Linked DNA regions of Homo sapiens: region 1 is linked to region 2. The links come from fine-mapping of genetic effects on gene expression. A gene starts in region 2. The other region holds a variant in brackets. All regions are shown on one strand. Distances are between the middles of the regions. Region 1 has its middle 26 kb from the start of ARHGAP22. Region 2 holds the start of ARHGAP22 (Rho GTPase activating protein 22).

Region 1 (9,908 bases), 26 kb before region 2:
GGTTGCTGCTGTCCCAAGACTCACTTCCACAGGGACTCTGGGAAGAGTGCAGACTCACCTGCCATAAGCCTGGAAGGGGAGAGGGTGGGGGTTACCCGGCCCCCTTTCTCCCTTGGCTGAGGGCAACCCCAGGGGTGTGGACACCCAGCCCTTCTGGACTGCATTTGTTTGCCCAGGGCTTAGGGTCCCTGTGGCTTCAGAGAAAGCCGAGGGCTGAGAGCCTGGAGCGGGAAGCCATCAGTGGGCTCACCTAAGAGGGGACGTTTCACCACAGCTGTGGCTGAACTTGGAGCTGGCCAAGGGGCTGGGACAAGTTACGGAGCACCCAAAGCTGTGCTTCAAGCTATAACCTAAACCCCAGGCATTTTTCTCTTACCAACCTTGGAGGAGTATGAAACTAGTCATGCCTGAGGAGACAGGGAGTCGGGGTCCAGGGAAACACCAGGCCCAGTGCAGAAGTGGGGGTGGGGGCAACAAGAGACAGAGGCCCAGAAACAAGGTGAAGTGCTTCATTCACGGTGGACCCAGAAGGAGCCTAGCCTCCAAGAGCCTCCCATGGGTGCTGGAATTCCCTTGTTCACACTGAGGAAGAGGGAGGGCAGGTACATGAGTCTGCTCGGGCTGCCATGACAAAGCACCTCGGGCCCCAGGGCTTTCACAACATACATGTATTTTTTCCCATTCTGGAGGCTGGAAGTCTAAGATCAATGTGTTAGCAAGCTTCTTTCTCCTCTCTCCTTGGCTTGTAAATATCACCTTCTTCCTGTGTCTTCACACAGTTGGTATCTGTGTCCTTATCTCCTCTGCTTATAAGAACTCTAGTCATATTGGACTAGGGCCCACCCTAATGACCTCATTTTAACTTAATCACTCATTTTAACTTTGATATTTAAAGGCCCTATCTCCAAATACAGCCACTTTCTGTATGGGGCGGTGGGGGTTAGGCTTCATCATGAACTGGAGTCGGGGGACACAATTCAGCCCTCTTGCTTTCCTGGGCTCAGAGCTGTCAGCCCTGAGAAGCAGAGGAGAGTCTATTCCAAAGAACAGGCTGGGCAGAGCCTCAGAGAGTGTCTAGACAGATGCCCTGCCAGCCACACTACCCTCTAGGGAGCCAAGCGGAAGCCCAGGCTCACCCACCCCCAGCCACAGAACCAAATAAGGGCTGAGTCAGCGGCTCTTCTTAGAGACCCAGTTTCCTACAATGGTTTCTGTTTCTGCACATCTGGGAGAAATGATTTGACTCTGGGAATGGTTGTGAAATGGGCAAACCACAGTGCAGGCTCACCGCCCTCTGCACCCAGCAGCTTATCCTCTCCTATGGCCCAGCTCTGTGGGGGCAGAGCACTTTTCCCTGTTGGCTAGATGAGGAAGCAGAAGATCTGAAGTTTACTGACTTGCCAAAAGCTCACAGCTAGTTAGTGGCAGACAGGACTCAACCCAGATCTGAGCTGACCCATCTTTAGTGCTCACTCACAGCAGTACCTCTGCTTTTAGGGACATTGATGGCACCTTTTGGCTGCTCCCATCAAATCCGCCACCCAAATCTGAAAGTACCCATTCAGCTACCCATGATACTACTGAGCTACTAGTGCAAACTGGCTTCTCTCAACAGGTGAGCTGGCTAGCAGATAACACTTCCTGCCAGTTATCATAGAAACAAGCGTGGGAGGAAGCAGCATCCTGGTGGCCAGGAAGAAGGTGAGGGAGAACATAGGGCATAGATGCCCATGGTGTCAACTCTCAGACACCTGCCCCAGAGATTTCCAGGAGTCAGGGCATCCCGCAGCCAGCTTGGCCCAGCATTCAGTTAGGAAAGGCTCTCCCTCCTCCCATGCCCAGCCCTCTGCTCCCTCCTCCTCTTAGCCCCGTGGAATGATCCTGTCTCTATTAACCTGCCCATCTCCTTCTGCAGATGGATGTCAACAGGGATTTTCTTGTGGAAAGTCCACAGGGAAAGCCAGCCCTCCCTCCCTGCTGCTGGCATCATTTTCCCACAAAATGTAAAAACAGTCTAGAGAAAGCCAGGCCTGGGTGTGGATCCAGGTTCTACCACCTGCTTACTCTATGCCCTTACTCAAGTGATATAATCTCTCTGCTTCATTTCCTCATTGTAAAAGTGAGACCACAATAGGCCATATCTCACAAGACTGTAATAAGGATTACATGTCTAATTAAAAGAAAAGAGTTCAAGGAAAGGCACAGGGTAAACCCTGAATAAGTGGGAACTCCCTTCCAGACAAACAATCAGATGCCACTGTTAATCTCTGGCTGAGAATTGTTTCCTTTGGGAATTTTTTGAAAACCAAGTGATATGATGGAGACTCTGGACACAGGAACCCTACATTTGGAGCTTTCTCCCAGTTTTACTTCTCCAGCATGCAGTCACTGCAAACCTCAGACCTGGGAGTCTCAGAGGAAGGTAGATTGTCTGCAGAAATGAGAGCTGACTGGGGCCATTAAAGGTGGACAGGCCTGGGAAATGATCTCAAAAGTTTCCTAAGGGTTGATAATTTATTCAGTCACCCAGCAAACATGAGTTGTGCCAGGCACTGCTCTAGGCACTGGAATACAGCAGGCAACATAATTGGCAAAAACTCTTACCTTCTGGAGCTCATGCTCTTCTCATATCATCCAATGGAAAGGCCTGAGGGAACTGTCCACTGATGTCCTCCGTGTGGCAGGTGATGTCCTCTGGCAGGTGACTCAGGATCTTCCAGGGGTAGATGAAGGAAAAGAATAGTCAGCGTTGTGCAGTAGTGATGAAAATGGAAAGACTCTGGCTTCTGGTTTCATCTTTGACATGTGAAAAGCTTAGACATTTTCACTCTCATCCTTACAACAAGGTAAAATCTGTGCAAACTTAAAATCAATGATTTCGCTCTGGCATCTGCAGACACAGCAAATATTAAAGACGGCACAGCTCCTAGCCTGGGTGGTTTTGGGAACACCCCCCAATTTGCAGTTGGTGTTGGAAGTGAGGCTGGTCTTGTGAAGACCTGTGTGCACTCTAAACTTGGAGTTGGCCAACTCCAGGCAGTGACAGAAAACAAACCACAGACCTAAGCAGGATAAAAACAAAAAATATACACATCTTAGGTGTCTCACATTCAAAATGCAGAAAACAAAAGACAGAGAAAATCTTGAAAGAAGCCAGGGGTATGGGGATCACCTTTCCTTTAGAAGAACAAGGATAGGAATTATATCAGACTTCACAACAGAAGTCATGCAAGCAAGTGGAGAGTGAAGGGAAATATTTCAACTGTTGAAAAAAAAATATGTTGAATAGTTTGTACATTAAAACTGCTGCAATAAAACTCCCTACCAACATAGGATTGCATAACTACTGGAATTTTTCTTCAAAAGTGAAGGCTAATAGAAAGGAATGAAATAATGTCTTTTGCAGCAACTTGGATGGAGCTGGAGGCCATTATTCTAAGTGAAGTAACTCAGGAATGGAAAAGCAAATATCATATGTTCTCACTTGTAAGTGGGAGCTAAGTTATGAGGATGCAAAGGCGTAAGAATTATATAATGGACTTTGAGGACTCGTGGGGAAGGTTGGGAGGAGGTTGAGGGACCAAAGACTACATATTGGGTACAGTGTACACTGCTCGAGTGACAGGTGCACTGAAATCTCAGAATTCCCCACTATAGAATTCATCCATGTAACCAAAACCACCTGTACCCCAAAAGTATTGAAATAGAAAAATAATTTTCATTGTAAAAAAAAGTGAGACTAAATAAAGACTTTCCCAGACAAACAAAAACCAAGAGTATTCATTGCTTGTCCTACAAGAAATGTTAAAAGAGAGAAAGAAAATGATGGGTGAGAAACTCAGATCTACATAAAGAAAGAGCATCAGAGAAGGAATAAATGAAAGTAAAACAAAGTCTTCATTTTTCTCATGCTTAATGGATCTAACAGGTAACTGTTTGTCCAAGTAACAATAGCAACAATATGTAGGGTGATTATAACACGTAGATAACCAAAGTGAATGTCAGTAATATTATAAGGAACAGGATGGAGGAACTGGGAATACTGATATAAGGAACCTGTACTATTTTTTAAGTAGTAGTGTTATTTGAGAGTGGACTCAGATTAGCTGTAAATATATATTGCAAAATCTACTGCAACAAGAAAATATTTTTAAGAAGTATAATTGATATCCCAAGGAGAAATATATCATTTTAATTGGCTTATAACTATTAAAGAAGTTAAATAAATGACAATTTTCCAACAAAGTAAGCACTAGTTCTCAAATGGTTTCACTGGTGTATTCTACCAAACACTTAAGGAAGAAATTAGATAAATTCTCTACAGTATCTTCCAGAATATAAAAATGGAGGTAACAGTTTCTAACTCATTCTGTGAGGCTAACAGCACCCTAATACCCAAACCAGATAAAGACAAGAAAGAAAAGCTACACATCAGTATCTTTTATGAATATAGATGTAAACAAGTCCTTAATGAAATATTAGCAAATTGAATCCAATAATGTATAAAAAGAATTATATACCACAACCAAGTGGAGTTTATTCCAGATATGGAAGGCTGATTGAACACTCAAAAAACTATTATGTGGTAGTTAATATGTGATAAACAATGTGGTAACCCACCACATCAACAGGCTAAAGAAGAAAAATCATATGATCATATGAATTAATGCAGAAAAAACATTTGACAAAATCCAACACTCATTCATGATAAAAACTTTTAGCAAACTAGAA[T/A]TAGAGGTAACTTCCTCAACTTGATAAAGGACATCCACAAAAACCCTACAGCAAAATGTATACTTAATTGTGAGAAACTAGATGTTCTCCCACTATGTTGGGAACAAGGCAATTCACCACACTTATTCAACATTGTACTGGAAGTCCTAGCAAATGCAGTAAGACAAGAGAAGGAAGCCATATATATACAGAATGGAGGAAGAAATAAAATTGCCTTTTTTCACAGAAGACAGGATTGTCTATGCAGAAAATTCCATAAAATTGATGGAAAAAACTCTTGCAACTTATAAGTGATTATAGCAAGTCACAGGATATAAGGTTAATATCCAAAAGTCAATGCCTTTTTTATATCAACAATGAACAGCTGGAATTTGAAAATAAAAGCACGATACCATTTACATTAGCATAAAAATGAAATACCTATAAATCTAACAGAATATGTACATAATCTTTATGCAGAAAAGTATAAAACTCTTGATTAATGAAATCTAAGAAAATCGAAATAAATGGAGAGATGTTCCGCTGTCATGGATTAGAAGACTCAATATTGTTAAGATGTCATTTCTGGGCTGGGCGTGGTGGCTCATTCCTGTAATCCCAGCGCTTTGGGAGGCTGAGGTGGGTGGATCACCAAGTCAAGAGATCGAGAACATCCCGGCCAACATGGTGAAACCCCATCTCTATTAAAAATACAAAAATTAGCCGAGCGAGGTGGCGGGGGCCTGTAGTCCCAGCTAGTCAGGAGGCTGAGGCAGGAGAATCACTTGAACCAGGGAGGTGGAGGTTGCAGTGAGCTGAGATAGCGCCACTGCACTCCAGCCTGGTGACAGAGCAAGACTCCGTCTGAAAAAAGAAAAAAAAGTCACTTCTTTCTAACTTGGTATATAGACTCAGTACAATCCCAATCAAACTCCTAGCAAGCTATTTTTTGCTTTTCCATACACCAGCAATGAACAATTGAAAGTTGAAATTAATTTTTTTCAAATCTGTCATTTAAAATAGCACCAAAAGAATGAAATATTTAGTTATAAAATTAACAAAACAGGCATAGGATCTATTGCAGAAAACCACAAAACATTGATGGAAAAAAATCAGAGATTGAAATAAATGGAGAGCTGTTCTGTGTTTGCGGATTGGAAGACTCCATATTATTTAAATGTCAATTGTTCCCAAATTGATCTATATAGATTCAGTGAATTCTCAATCAAAATCCTAGCAAGCTATTTTATAGGTATTGGCACACTGATTCTAAAATTTATATGGAAAGGCAAAACATCTAGAATAACCAACACAGAAATGAAGGAAGCATGCAACCTAAATTCAAGACTTACTCTAAAATAAACATGTAAACAAAACATGGTGATATGAGCAAAATGATAGACACGTGGATGAATGGAATCAAATAGAGAAATAGAAATAGACCCACACAAATGTAGCTAACTGACCTTTGATGAGAGCCAAGGTAATTCAATGGAGAAAGGATAGGCCTTACACTTTTTACAAAAATCAACTCAAAATGGATGGTAGACCTAAATACAAAAATACAAAATATGAAGTTTCTAGAAGAAAACAGGAAAAAATCTAGAAAACCTTGGGATTGACACCCATGGAGAGGGCAGGAAGCAGGACTGAGCAAAAGGCAAAATCAGACTGCAATGCAGGCACAACAGCAGCCTCAGTAGACTCCATACTTAGCTCTGAGGGTTAGCTGGGCTTTCCAGGCTGTCCTAAGTTGGGGCAAGAAGACCAGGCCTCTATGCCCCCATAATGACCAGCCATTGGTGGTGGCTGCCCCTAGGAAGGTAGTGTGTCTCTGAGAAATTCCCAGTGGAGGCAAAGGCTGAAAGGGCTGGGTGTTAGCAGCTGGGAGCTAGTCCTGGGCCATCTGGGAAGCACAACAGAGCCCATTCCAGGTGTCTCTAGATTTTTACTGTTACACATAATGCTGTGAATGCACCTTTCCCTGCAAGATAAACTCCAAGGAGCAGACACATTGGTCAGGGTTGTGCACTGTGTTCTTCCCTTAGTCACAGCAGTGGCCACCACTGCACCTTGAGGGTGGTGGCCTCTCTCAGCTCAGACTCCCCAGGTTGATGGATGGGAAGGCAAGCTTTGCTCCTCTTACTGCAAGATATGTCACTGTGGCCCCATGTCCTATGTGCACCAAAGATGATGACTCCAAGGGGCCACCTGGGGAATGGGAAGGTGTTTAGGTCCATTTTGTGATGAAATCCTATTGGTTTAATATACTTTGACTATATTGTCAAGGCCATGACTCGATAACTTGCAAAAAGTTCATATGCTTTAAATTTGCTAACAGGAGTCACCAGGCGGAATCAAATGCCTTGAAAGCAGATTTCTGGACCTATGGAGTGGTTTGGAGCCTCAAGGTGGTAGGGTAGAGCCAACAGAACAGGCAGTCAACTCCATCATACAAGCAGCATATGGTGGACATCTGTGCCCACATCCTTGCTATGGAAACAGACAGGAGCCACCTGGTGTTACTCAACCCAGCAGACTTAGCCATCTGCTAGCCAGTGACCTTGCACACACTGGCTCTGAGCCTCACTTTTCTCTTAAAATAAGAATTATCAAGACATCTTTGGGTGGCCATATGTGTGAATCAAGATACTGGGGCCTGGTGTGTGGTAGGTGCCTGGTAGATGCTCAGCAAATGTTAACTGCTAAAACAAGGACTGTAACATCTGCACTAATGGTAGACCTGCCACCAGGCACAGCATGCTCCTGGCCACATCAGGGCTGGTTCTGAGACTGCGTGAGTGCAGAACTGGAAGGCAGGGCCATCCTGAACAGAGGGTGGCCAGTCAGACACCCTGAGGACTCCCAAGATAGACTCACTCACCCACTGCAAGGAAGAGAAGGAGGCCAGATGTCTGTCCCTGTGATGCCAGCTGTGGCCATTGCCCTCCTTTCTTTGAGTCTCAGAGCACTGTGTTAATACGTTTTACTTGGGACTGATACTTCAAGCAACTCTTGTGCAGGGTAAGGAACCAAAGTATAGATAGTACCTTTCTACAAATCACAAAGATGCCCCTTCCTCTGGGCTAAGCCAGCCTCACACCAGACCCCATAGCTTGTCCAATAGAGCACCTGGTGGCCTGAATGAAGTGCCCACACACCTCAGCCAGCCACACCAGAGGCCGGGCCCAAAGTGACCCTCATCCAGGGGCCCTGAGAATGCATGCCTCACATTATCAGTTGGGATCTTTCATAAAGCCCTTGGAATATCAGAGGAGACTGAAATTCGAAACTAAAACTTGACCAGAAGAGCAAGATGCTGTGGGCATGAGCCAAGCTTCCCAGTGGCCTGCCCTGTGCAGCCCTGTGTCCCCACTCAGTGTGGAGCGCCGGCTCTCTCCCAAACCCTGTCCTGGCTGCTAGCCCAGATGGGAATGGGACAGGCCCTGCCCACCATGCCTTGAACCTAGAGTGAGTACAGACATCCTTGGACACCTGTCTTGCCCTCTCTGATTCTCCAATACCAGCTGGGTGTCCAACAGTTCAATTCAATTCAATTCATTTCAATTCTGACATTAGCTCTCCAGAGCTAGTGCAGACCACACTGGTTAGGGCTCCGTCCCACAAGACCTCCCCGACTTCAGATGAAAATGGGTGCCCAGGCCATCCACACTCCGTCCTACTTGGCTATGCATTAATAGATTCCTGCAACCCCTCCTCAGGTTTGATAATTCACTAGAATGACTCACAAAACTCAGGAAAACACTACTGACATTTGCAGGTTAATGACAAAGAACACAACTCAGGACAGCCTGCTGCAGGAAATGCGTAGGGCCAGGGAAGAGGGAGGGGCATGGAGCTTCCATGCACTCTTCATGCACAACCCGCTCCCAGAACCTCCATGTGTTCACCAACCCGGAAGCTCCCTGAACCCCATCATTTAGGGGTTTTTATGGAGGCTTCGTTACGTGGGCATGATTAATCAAATCATTGGTCATTGGTGATTGGACTCAATCTCCAGTTCCTCTCTCCTTCCTGGAGGTCAAGGATAGGGCTGAAACTTGTAACCCTCTAATCACATGGCTGGTTCACCCCCATGCCCAGCCAGTTCCCACTCTCCCACAGTCACCTCCTTAACCTTGCCTCAGGTGCCTTTGAAAGGGGCTTTCTCTGAATAACCAAAAATGCTCCCCTCACTTCTGTTACTCAGGAAATTCCCAGGGTTTTAGGAGCTCATGCCTGGTACAAATATCAAATATCTAGTTCCCATCGTACCACACCCTCCACATGAGTGTCCTGGGGACAGGCGGCTCTGTCTCCTGCGAGGGCACATTCCACAGGGCTGGATATTGGGCTTCATGCAGAGTTTGTTATTAGCAAATGCACATGGAGGGAAAGGGTTGAATATCTGCCAGGATATTCAGGAAGTTCCGAATGTGCCATGGGTCTGGAACAGTGGCCAGAGCTTCAATTCTGAAGGCAAATGCTTAACAAATATCAATGTAGCACCTCCTAGCAGCCACCATTAACAGCTTACTGGATTTCAGCACCATCTAGAAGCTCCATCTGTTTTTCACAAGTTTTCACAAAGACACTGAGGGGTAGATGTCCTTGGTCCTGATGAGGTCCCCAAGATTAAGACCCTGGGGACATCAGAATTCACAATTCACACTCAGCATGTTTCTTGACAACACCTCTCCAGTTTCCATGCCGGGCTCCTGGTCTGGAATCAGGACAAGAAAAAGACAAAATCAAGAAAGCCCCCTGGGTGAGTCTCTCTTATAATTGGCTCTGATTTAGGGGTGGGATAGGGTTAGTGTAAGAAACCAGCATAATATCAAGGCTTCAAATAGTATGCTAGTATCCACGCTGCTGGGCCAAAAATGGGGTTGATGGGACCACATGTCTCTCATGGAGACTTTTACAGTCAGTCTACCAAAGAAGGGACATGGCTGCTTTTGAGAACTGGATGTTGATTTGCCCAGGTCTCTCTTGGGACTAGATATGCTGGTGGTGAGCTGAGCATTTGGGGAAGCACTTTCTGTTCTAGGTGACAATGGTGTCATAGGGCTAAGTCCTGTGCACATATAAACACACTCCTTTGCTAGGGTCCTGGGATGGCTGGGTTTGGATATGTGTGGAGCAGAGATCATCCCTGGAAGCATGGAAGCTGAGGCACATTCAGATCTTCCCTCCTC
Region 2 (9,908 bases):
GTGAGGGGGCAGGAAAAACTCGTACTCCTCTAAAGATCTCGCAACAGGCCTTGTAGAAGGTCCCCGTGGCCTTGGGCATGGAAGAAATGGGAAATGTTAAAGGTGCCGAACTCCATACAGCACTGAGTGAGGAGGTGGTGCTGGAACAAGGTCCAGAGGGATGCATCAAAGTTCAAGAGGCAAAAAAGGGCAGGCAGAGTGGAGTGTGTACCCAGTGAGAATGTCGGCTATAGTAATGAAGAGGACCAACTATGAAATGACTCAATACAGTATAAGTTAATTTCTCTTTCTCTCAAGATACTTCCAGGTTGACAGTGAGGGCTTGGCTCCATGCAGTCATTCAGAGCCCCAGACTGCAGGGATTCTACCATATTCTACATGGGAATTCCAAAGTGGTCCCATCCCAATCAACCAGAAAAGGGAAATGAGCTTAGAAGGGTAGCAAGAGAAGGAATCCTGGAAGCCAGGCCTAGAAGTAACCACATCACTTCTGCTCATGTATAATGGCCAGGATGCAGTCACACCTAACTGCAAGGATGCTGGAAATGTAGAACATCTGTGTGTTCCCAGGAAGAAGGGGAGAACAGATTCAGGTGGAGAGCTGGCATCCTCTGCCTAGAACAGGGAGTCTACAGTGACTGGGGCAGACAGAGTGAATGTGGTGGAAATGGGCCAGAGGTGTGCTGACAAATGCTTAACAACCAGCTCTGTAGAAGAAAAACAAAACAAAACAAGACATCTAAGCTCTGATTTACTGCATTTGCTAGTTTTCTTGGTGTAAATACTCCCACAACATTCAATTTCAAACTACCAGCATGATGTCATTGAACATTAGAGTTGAGAAGAGATGCATGGCAGCAACCCAGTATATATTATCCACCATGTAGAAACAATAGATGTCAATTACCTGAAGAATAATAAAATGTAGTAAAATGATTTGGAAATTATGAGTTTTTAGTGCTTGTTACCTTTGTCTTAAATAGTTTATTTAATTATAAGTTTATATACATTAATTTCTAATGATGTTCTTGCTAAACAACTGGCTTACAAAACTCCTGAAAATTTAACAATCAGTTATGTCATTGGTACTCTCCAGCTGGTCCGGCCCACTACTGGGATAGACAGAAGGAGAAACCAAAGTATGAGGGTGGGAGCTGCCCATGAAGACCTTGAGTGACATGCAAGGGAGCTGCGGCATCGACCTCCTGGCAGCAGGAACAGAGAGTGCACTAAGCAGGCAGGCTGGGGACCCAGGTGCTGGTGACCCCTGGGCAGGCATCACAAAGCCAGAGTAGCATTGTTTCTCTCCTCTGCCTCCAGAAGGGCTTACTCTGGTCCTCCATGCAGCTTCTGGAACAGGGGAAGCAGGGCTTTGCTATCTATATGTCGCCTTTGTGCAAATTAGAGGAAAGCTCCCTCCTCTAGCTGCACACCTCCCCACCTCCCTGTGCTGGAACACAGGGCTTTGCCAATGGAGCCCAAATTCAGCCTCCTTACCTCCCTCTACTGGACACCTTTGAGCAGTGCACAGACCATCCAACAGCACCTGTGGCTCTGGGTGGAGTTGTCTCAAGTTGGGGCTTGGGACAGATGCCCTTTCCACTTTCTGACCAGGAGATTTATTCGCAGATGTGCCTCTCCCTGAGAAGAATCTCCCTTAGGATGGCAGCCAGCAAACACCCCATGTGCAGTTGTCTTCTAAAGCTGTGGTTCTCAACCCTGGCTGAATCCCTAGAGGAGCTTTTACAACTCCCAATGACAATAAACACTGCAGACTAGTTAAATCAGAGCCACTGGGGGTGGGACACAGGAATTCACTGTCAGAGCTCCCTAATGTGCAGCCAAGGTTAGGAACTACTGTTTTGAAGGTATCCTGGCTCTGGGCCAGTTGATGCTGATTGGCAGCCATCCCACCAACAGGTGTGCATTTCAATAGATGCCTTCTGCCTTCCGGAGACTTCTGTCCATTCAGTGCTCAGCTTCTGTCCCTGAACAGCCCTTAGAAAATACTGAATGATTCAAGGCAGGAAGCCAGGTGAAGGCAGACCTAGGACCACTGCTGGAAAGGGGCAGCACCGTGCAGGCAGGCACAGGGCAGTGGAGAAGGAGGCATCTGTCTCCGCTGCTAAGCTAGACCTGTATCTCCCACTCCTTGGTCTGGGTGTCCCACTTATAAGTGAGAAGAGTAGGGCTGGTTCTTCAAATAAAAGCTTATAGGAGGTCACATGTTCAACAGATCCCCTTGCCCTGCCCTTGTCCCCACTCCATCCTCCCACAGGCCACCCCAGAGGAAGTGGGAGGCTCCCAGGGCCCTGCAGATCAGGGCTGGTAAACTTCAGGATGAAGGGGCTCCAATTCCTGCCTCTGTGGACCCTTCATCTCAGGAAGTACTGAGAGCACAGTCTGAGGTTGGAGAGGAGAAAAGAGCTACTTTGCCCACCTGCCCCATTCCCCCAGCCTTCTCAGACGCAGAACGTAGATCAACTCCTGCCCTTTTCCCAGCCTGACTTCTGGGGTGTGAGCCCAGCTCTGATCCCCAGAAAAGCAGGCGAGTGAACACAGTGACTTAATATCATCAGGGAAAACAGCTGCACAGGAAAAGCGCCTGGGGGTGGTTTCTTAACCAAAACAAGCGTGAGTGGACCCAGACTAAGTCTCAGGGCATTTCCTTGCCTCTGACTTGGATGAAGTGGTCCAGGCTGCATTACTCACAAATGGCTTCCTGATTGCTCAAGACATTGTCACAAGCCACAGGACTTGCCCTGTGACCCTGGTGTCGACATGAGATTTTCTAGCTTGATATTCTCCCCACTCCTCATGGGTGGCCCCTGTCCCAACCAGGGCTTGTACCTGGCCTTAAAGGAAAAGGAGGTCAGTTCTGTCATTCAGTGGTGTTTCTTGGATCTGCCCATGAAGCCAGAGTTTCCTGTGAGGCTTCTGGCCTGAGTCAGCCTGGGGCTCAGGGAGGGCGTACAAGAGGGGCAGTACAGGGACATAGATAAGGGCCCAGGGGAAGTGCTTAGTGGCTCATTCTGCTGGTGGAATCAGGAGAATTTCATTGGGGAATTGCCCAAAGAGGACAAGGCAATGTGAGGAAGGGCATTCCAGAGAGAGGGAACTGCACGTGCAAAGACACAGCTACATGTGCAAAAACACAGAGGCACAGGAGAGCAGGGGCTGCACATGCAAGAACAGGAACACACAGGAGCAAGGCATGTGCAAAGTCACTGGGGCACACAGGAGCAGGCGCTGTATGTGCATATGGTTGTATAGAGCATCGGCAAGAGATAGGTCAGAGAGGAGTCCATGGATGCTACCATGAAAGAACCTGGAATGTTATGCCAAGGTACTCATTCATCCCTCTGAGGAGTAGCTGAAGACCAGAACAAGTGACTTGATGCTGAGTAAGACAGCTTTGTGTCCATGGACTCTACCTTCTCCCACCAGCTTGGCCATGTGGCTCACCACATCCTGGTGAGTCTTTCTTCTTACTCTGCAGTCCTCCCCTCTCCATAGGGCACACTGTTCCCTAGGGAGGACTGCCACAGTGATCTCCTGGTGGGCTCTCTCCCTCTACAGCTGCTAAAGTTGATTACATACCAATAGGACACTTGGGGATCTGTGGACATGGGGCACTCGAGGGAGTGTGGAGGGTCAGATGGAGGCTATGGCCATCTGAGCAGGGGAGGGCATTGTTCAAATCCCTCTTTACCAGCTACTGAAAGGGTCACACAGTTCTCAGGCCCAAATAGCCAGACCCAAGCTCAGATGCCTAAGAGGATACACGGAGTGATTATCAGGGGCACAGAGGCAGGTCACCGTTCAGCAAGTTCATCGGGGGCTCAAGCCAGGAGCTGTTACCATGCAGTGATGGGAATAGGGTGGAGAGGCTGGCATCACAGAGCAGCAGGAGCTGTAGACACAGCCCTGGGTTCTGGTGCCCGCCCTGCTGCTCGGTACTGTATGACTTTGGGCAGGTGATTCAACCTTGCTGTGCCTTATTTTCCAGATTTGAAACGCTATATATATAGCACCTGCTTCAGGAGTTTGAGAGTTAAATGAGATATTGAATGTAAAGCACCAGCCTCAGTGCCTGACACATAGTAGGTGCCTAATAAATGATAGCTATTGTTATGATTGCATTCCTTGGGTAATTTTTAGCATCTTGAGGCTGGATTCCGCTCCTCACAAAGCCCCAGTATACACCCTTTAAAATTATGCCAGCATCAAACAGAAACATGGCAATTAGCAGAGATTCACTATTCAATTCAGATCTTCCTATGAAGAGCCCTGAGTTAAGTGCTTCCTGCCCTCTTATTCCTGTCACCTTACTAAAGAGGCATAAATAGTATCCCTAACAGGCATCTTCCTGTTGGGAGTCTCCTGAGGAGTTTACATTGCCGGGCTGCTTGCTCCTTCCCAGACACACCTGACTTTCAACACGTAAAACAGTGAGCTCATAAGCGGGTCCCCGTGGATTGGGCTCTGGGGTGGGGGGGGGGTCTCGGCTACCTTCTCACCAAAGCGCTATCCCACCCGGGCTTGGCAGGGAGTGCGGCTCCCAGGCGGCGGCTGAAAGGCGCATTTCTTCCAGCCTCAGCAAAGGATGGCCGGAACCCCAGTACCCTCTCCCGGGCCAGGACCGCGCCCCGCGTCTCTGGCTGGCCCCGCCCCTCTCGGCCCCGCCCCGCCCCCGCGCTCAGCTTGGACAGCCACGCGTGCGCCCAGGCCAGGCGGAGGGACTGCCCCGCCCTGGTCCAGTGATTGATCAGCAGTGATTACTGAGGCTTTAATGGTCCGCTTGGATGGGAATTAATTCTGGGATGGATAAATAATGCATCGAGGTTTATGTAGTCCAAGGCGAGCCGTCCGTCCGGAGCCAGGAGAGGTAGCCGAGGGAGCCTGACGGGTGACGCCAGCGGCCACGGGGCCCCGAACGAGCAGGACATGAGGGGCGACTAGGCGCGAGGACGAGCAAAAGCAAGTGGATGACAGCATGAACGGCCCTGCGGGGCTGGCCGGACGGCTGCAAGAACATGCTGAGCCCAAAGATCAGGCAGGCCAGGAGGGGTAAGTCCAACTTTCTGGGGTTTCTCTGGGCACCGCATGTGCCTCTTGGCAAACGTGCGCGGACACTTGGCCAGCCGTCACGCCATGTGTCACATGGGGCGGGCGTTCTGGGACCATTGCCGCTGAATAGTGAGCATCCTCCTGAGGAAGTGCCCTTCCTCGTGAAACTCCTGGGCTGGGTGGGGACACGACCTGAAGTTGCAAAAGGGCGGTGGCCGGCTTAGTGCCCCAGTGGGTGTGCACACTTCGCCCCACATTCCACATTTTACAGAGGCCCTCGGTCGCTCCAGGTGACCTGGTGGCAACTTTAAGGAAACTTTGCTTCTTTACTAAAAAGGAAATGCCCAAGATTTGCCCTGTGGCCAACACAGAAGCACCCCTTACCAGGGAAGGCCATGCCCTGGCTTCTAGAGACAGCTGGGTGCAAGCGAGGGTCTTCGTTCCCGCTGCTTTGCAGACAGTATTTCCTCAAGCAGGCCAGGGGCAGGCAGGCTTTCCTGCCAGAACACTCAGAAAGCTGCAGGGTCTGGGGGCAGGACGGGTGGATGCGGGAGCAGACTCAGACCAGCAAGAGATGGGGGTCAGGAGAGTCCAGGACTGGGCTAGCCAGCCTGTGTCCAGCCAGCGACCCAGCACAGTGACCTGAAGACTTGGCCACTGTATGGGGCTAGAGACAGCATCTCCATGGACAACAACTTCTTAGCCACGGAAAGTGTCATTTTGAATGAGAACATCTGTCTTTTACAAAAATAGAATGTGTCTTTTCAGGTGGCCAGTATCTGGGAGGGCTGAGCTCCTTTTGTAAACAATGAAGTGGAGGATGGGTCTTTGGAGGTGGATGGAGCATTTGCCTGGGAGCTTGGAAACAGTTTGTGTCTCACCAGGTGTTTGCAGCGGGGGGCCTCCAGCCTCCTGTGGATTCACAGGGAACACACCCATCTTATTAGCACACTGCAAGCACTTGGATGATTTTCCTGGATGGGACCAGCCTTCCAGTGTGTTCCACAGACGTCAGGACCCCTCTGTGGGGTGCTTTCGCATGGGCTGAACCCTGTGTACCCCAATGGGCAAAGGAGGAACTTGCATGGCTCTGCTGAGGAGGGGGCAAGTCTAGTGATGACCCAAGGGATAGGACAAGCCAGATACCTCTGCGAGAGCTTAGTTCCACCCTCCCACTCCTGTGTAATGAGCTGGCCACTGGCCACATGTGGCTACTAAGCACTTGGCATGTCACTAGTCCAAATTGAGAAAAAGACACACCAAATTTTGATGATTTAGTACAAAAAAAGAATGTACAATATCTCATTAATAATTATTTTACTGAAATGACAGTATTTTGGATATATTGGGTTAAATAAAATCTATTATTAAAACTAATTTTACCTGTTTTACATTCTTTTACTATAGCTACTAGAACATTTACAAGTACATATGTGACTCATATTATATTTTTTATATTTCTATTGGACAGTGCTAGTAAGAGACCAGTGCTTCAGCAAAGGGGCTTACAGGCAGCCTGTCTTTGAAATCCAGGATTTCTCATAAATGTTTGTTTTAAGTCAATGGTTCTCAACCAGGAGCAATTTGCCCCACTAGAGAACATTTGGCATTGTTTGGAGTATTTTTGGTTATTCCAACTGAGGGGTGCTACTGGCATCTAGTGCGTATAGGCCAGCCATACAGCCCTCTTCCAGTCCTCAGTGTTCCATGAGGCTTCCACCATAGGGCTTTTGCACATCGTTCTTTCCCCTGAAATGCCTCCCACATTCACATGTGCGCACATGCATGCCTGTATGTGTGTGCACATGCGTTCATGCATACAAACATACACACACACCTTAATTCCTATTCACCCTCCAGTTATAGTATAGTTCAAGTGTTGCCAGCCAGGGAAGTCTTCCCACACACCCCAGTCCAGGCTGGATCCTCTGCTCCATCTCTCCTTTTCTTTATGGTATTTACCATAGGTTGCAGTTGTATACTCCTGAGTGTGACTGATTGGTGAATATCTGTCACTTGCATTGCTCCATGAGCTTCGTGAAAGCAGGAACCATTTCTGTTCGGGGACATCATTATACCCCCAATGCCAGGTACCTGGTGGACACTCAACCTGTGTTTTTTGAGTGAGTGGATGAATAGCTGGATAGAGGAGAAAGCATTTGCCTGGGTGGCTGGAGCACTGTCTCTACCCAAGCTGGCCCGGTACTTAGGAAATTTGGCCTCATCTTTCACTGACTCATATGTTGCAAATATTTTCCCAATTTGTTGCTTGCCCTTTATTTTTATATTAGAGTGGGTTTTTTTTCTAGATGTACCTGTTTTTAACTCGTATATATTTTCCTTTTAGAATTTCTGTCTTTGTTTGCAATATTTCAAAATAAAATTGTTGATGCTATTAAGGAGGCTCCTTCTTTTAAAGGAAATCATCAGACTGATGGGCCAAGTTATAGGAGCTTTAACCATCTCCTGTAGCAGGAGTGTCAATGTCTCAGGAGCCTTGATGAATGTTCAGAGCCTGGTCAATACTTTGGGGGTGGGGAGAGAAAGCTCTATTAATATGATGAAGTACCTTCAATGGCCTTATTCTTGTGATTGTCCCACAAGAAAGTAAACCAACATTTATTGTGCACCCATGCTCCAGGCACTTTTGTTGTACCTCATTTAATTCTCATGACTACACTATAATGTGATATCATTGTTACCATTTTGACAGATGTAGAAGAATCATGGTCGCCCAGCCAATAAATGTGGGATCTAAATTTGTCTGTCCAATGCTAAGGCCTCTGCCTTCTCTCTAACCCAACACTATCTGAAGACCTCTGCACCTGGCCCTGTACATCTCCATGAGAGCTGTAGATTATTTCAGTGATAAAATGCAATGATATTTTTAAGAAGGTGCATCTAAACACATGGAGATTAGATCTAGACAACTCATAGAATGTTTGAGGTTGGATTATTGATACCTAGCAGAAAACTAAGCAAATAAAAAACAAGGCAATTATGAACTCCACAGAAAACAAAAGTGATTCATGAAAGAAAAATTATTATCATATATAACATACCTCAAGTGGGACTAGCAATTAAACGGTGCTAATAATGGAAATTCTGTTGTTAATCTAACCAAAATTTTAATATAACTAATTGGGAGGGTGGAGTGGGTGCTTATGGATGGTGGGGGGAAAGGGTGTAAAAGAAACAAAATCTTCATCTTCTATAGTAAGAAGTTAATAAATAACACTTAAAAGGAAAAAATCAAGAAGTGGTAATAAATAAATACTATCTGGAAACATAGAAGTAATACCAAAAGAACCAATGACAAATGTTGAAAGTGGCTGCCTCTGTGGGGTGGGGAATGGAAGTAAAGGGATAGGACACTCCTGGGTTTTGCCCCAAGGCTGCAGGACTACTTGAAAAGTGGTTAGGGAATCACAGCCCAGAGGTCAACTGACCTCATACCTGCTCAGACTGGGGGATCCTTCAGAGCCCTGGAAGATTCTGCCCTTCAGGGACACTCATAGGGTTAGCAGGCCTCCTGGGATTGCTTAGTTATGAATGTTGTGGCTCCCAGGATGTGCCCTTGGCGATGCTGTGATGCCCCTGCCCAGGTTTGTCAGGTACCATGATGGCTCCCTATGACTCTCACCACCTTCATGGCTCTGAGAGTGAAGCAGCTAAGGAACAGTCACCTAATTAGGTGACACAGCATCTGGCTTTGCCTGATTCAGAGAGAGGACAGAGGTCTAGCAGAATGGTCAGTAAGATATGCTGAAGAAGGGGCGTATTAGAACTGCTCATGGAAGGGTGCATCCAGGCTGTGGGCTGGAGCTTAGCCAGGGACTAGAGGCCTCAGAAGAGCCTGCTCTGGAGAAGGAGGACCAAAGGGAATCACCCAGCAGTCTCTACTTCCAGGCCAGGCCCTGGCACCACTGTTTGTAGCTGATAACCTTCCGTGACAGCAGAGGTGCCCAAGCCTGGACATCCTCTGCCACTAGCCAGGTACTCCACCCCATGGAGAGAACCAAGCTGTCTCTTGTCAGTCCATTCTAAAAATTTGCTCAGAAGTGAAATGAAGTTGCAGAGGCCCTCAGATCAGCAAAGGGTCCAGGACAAACCCTGGGGAACCTGATTCGAGGAAATAAAAGTTTGCAATTTGGGGATCTTTGAACAAGAGTGGCCTCAAATCACACTGCAGCCTGATTTTTTTTTTTTTTGAATACTCCTCTGGGATTTTCATTGTTTATTTCTAAAATTTTTAACATTTTCTTATTGAGGCATAATTTACAGAGTAAAATGCACAAATCTTAAGTGTTCTCTCAGTGACCAGCCTGAAGATCAAGATATAAAGCATTTTCCTTAAGCCCAGAAAGTTTTCTCCTGTGTCTTCCCAGTCACCCTGGCTCGTCTCCCAACCAGAGTGACACTTTTCTGATTTCTAGCACCCTAGAGTGATCTCACCTATTCTTCAATTTTATATAAATGCAATCAAGGATATGACTTTCCACTGTTAATACATTAAAGGCCACAAACAGTCCTTCCACTTTCCTCTTTAAGGAAGGAAGGAAAGTGAGAGAATCTCTGTTGAGTGTTTAGAATGTGCCAGATGCAAGCTGGACCTTCCATTACATGCAAATGTCCTATTTTAATCTTTACACCAACTCTGTGAGACAAGGGAGAAAACAGAGGCAGAATAATATAAGTAAAATGCTCAAAATTGCACCACTAATAAGAGCAGAAGCAGCTTAAACACAAGACTCTGAGATCTGAGAAGCCTCCCTCCCAAATCTAGTGCTGCACAGAGGCAGATGGAGGCTGACGTGTCACTGAACAGCTCATGCCCC

What was found.
Region 1: its variant is fine-mapped to the expression of ARHGAP22 in whole blood (INTERVAL, PIP above 0.99).

What each region holds. Positions count from the first base shown.
Region 1 is chr10:48,625,780-48,635,687 of GRCh38, reverse strand. It overlaps a transcript of ARHGAP22 not described here. Among named protein-coding and RNA genes, the nearest start is that of ARHGAP22, 26 kb to the right of the region's middle. The variant T/A (reference allele first, on the strand shown) is at 4,732.
Region 2 is chr10:48,599,925-48,609,832 of GRCh38, reverse strand. It overlaps ARHGAP22 (Rho GTPase activating protein 22), which reads left to right and starts at 4,760. Exons shown (of 10, transcript NM_021226.4): 1 at 4,760-5,070. The coding sequence starts at 5,037. RefSeq lists enhancers at 1,583-1,642, 4,609-5,339 and a silencer at 4,593-4,752.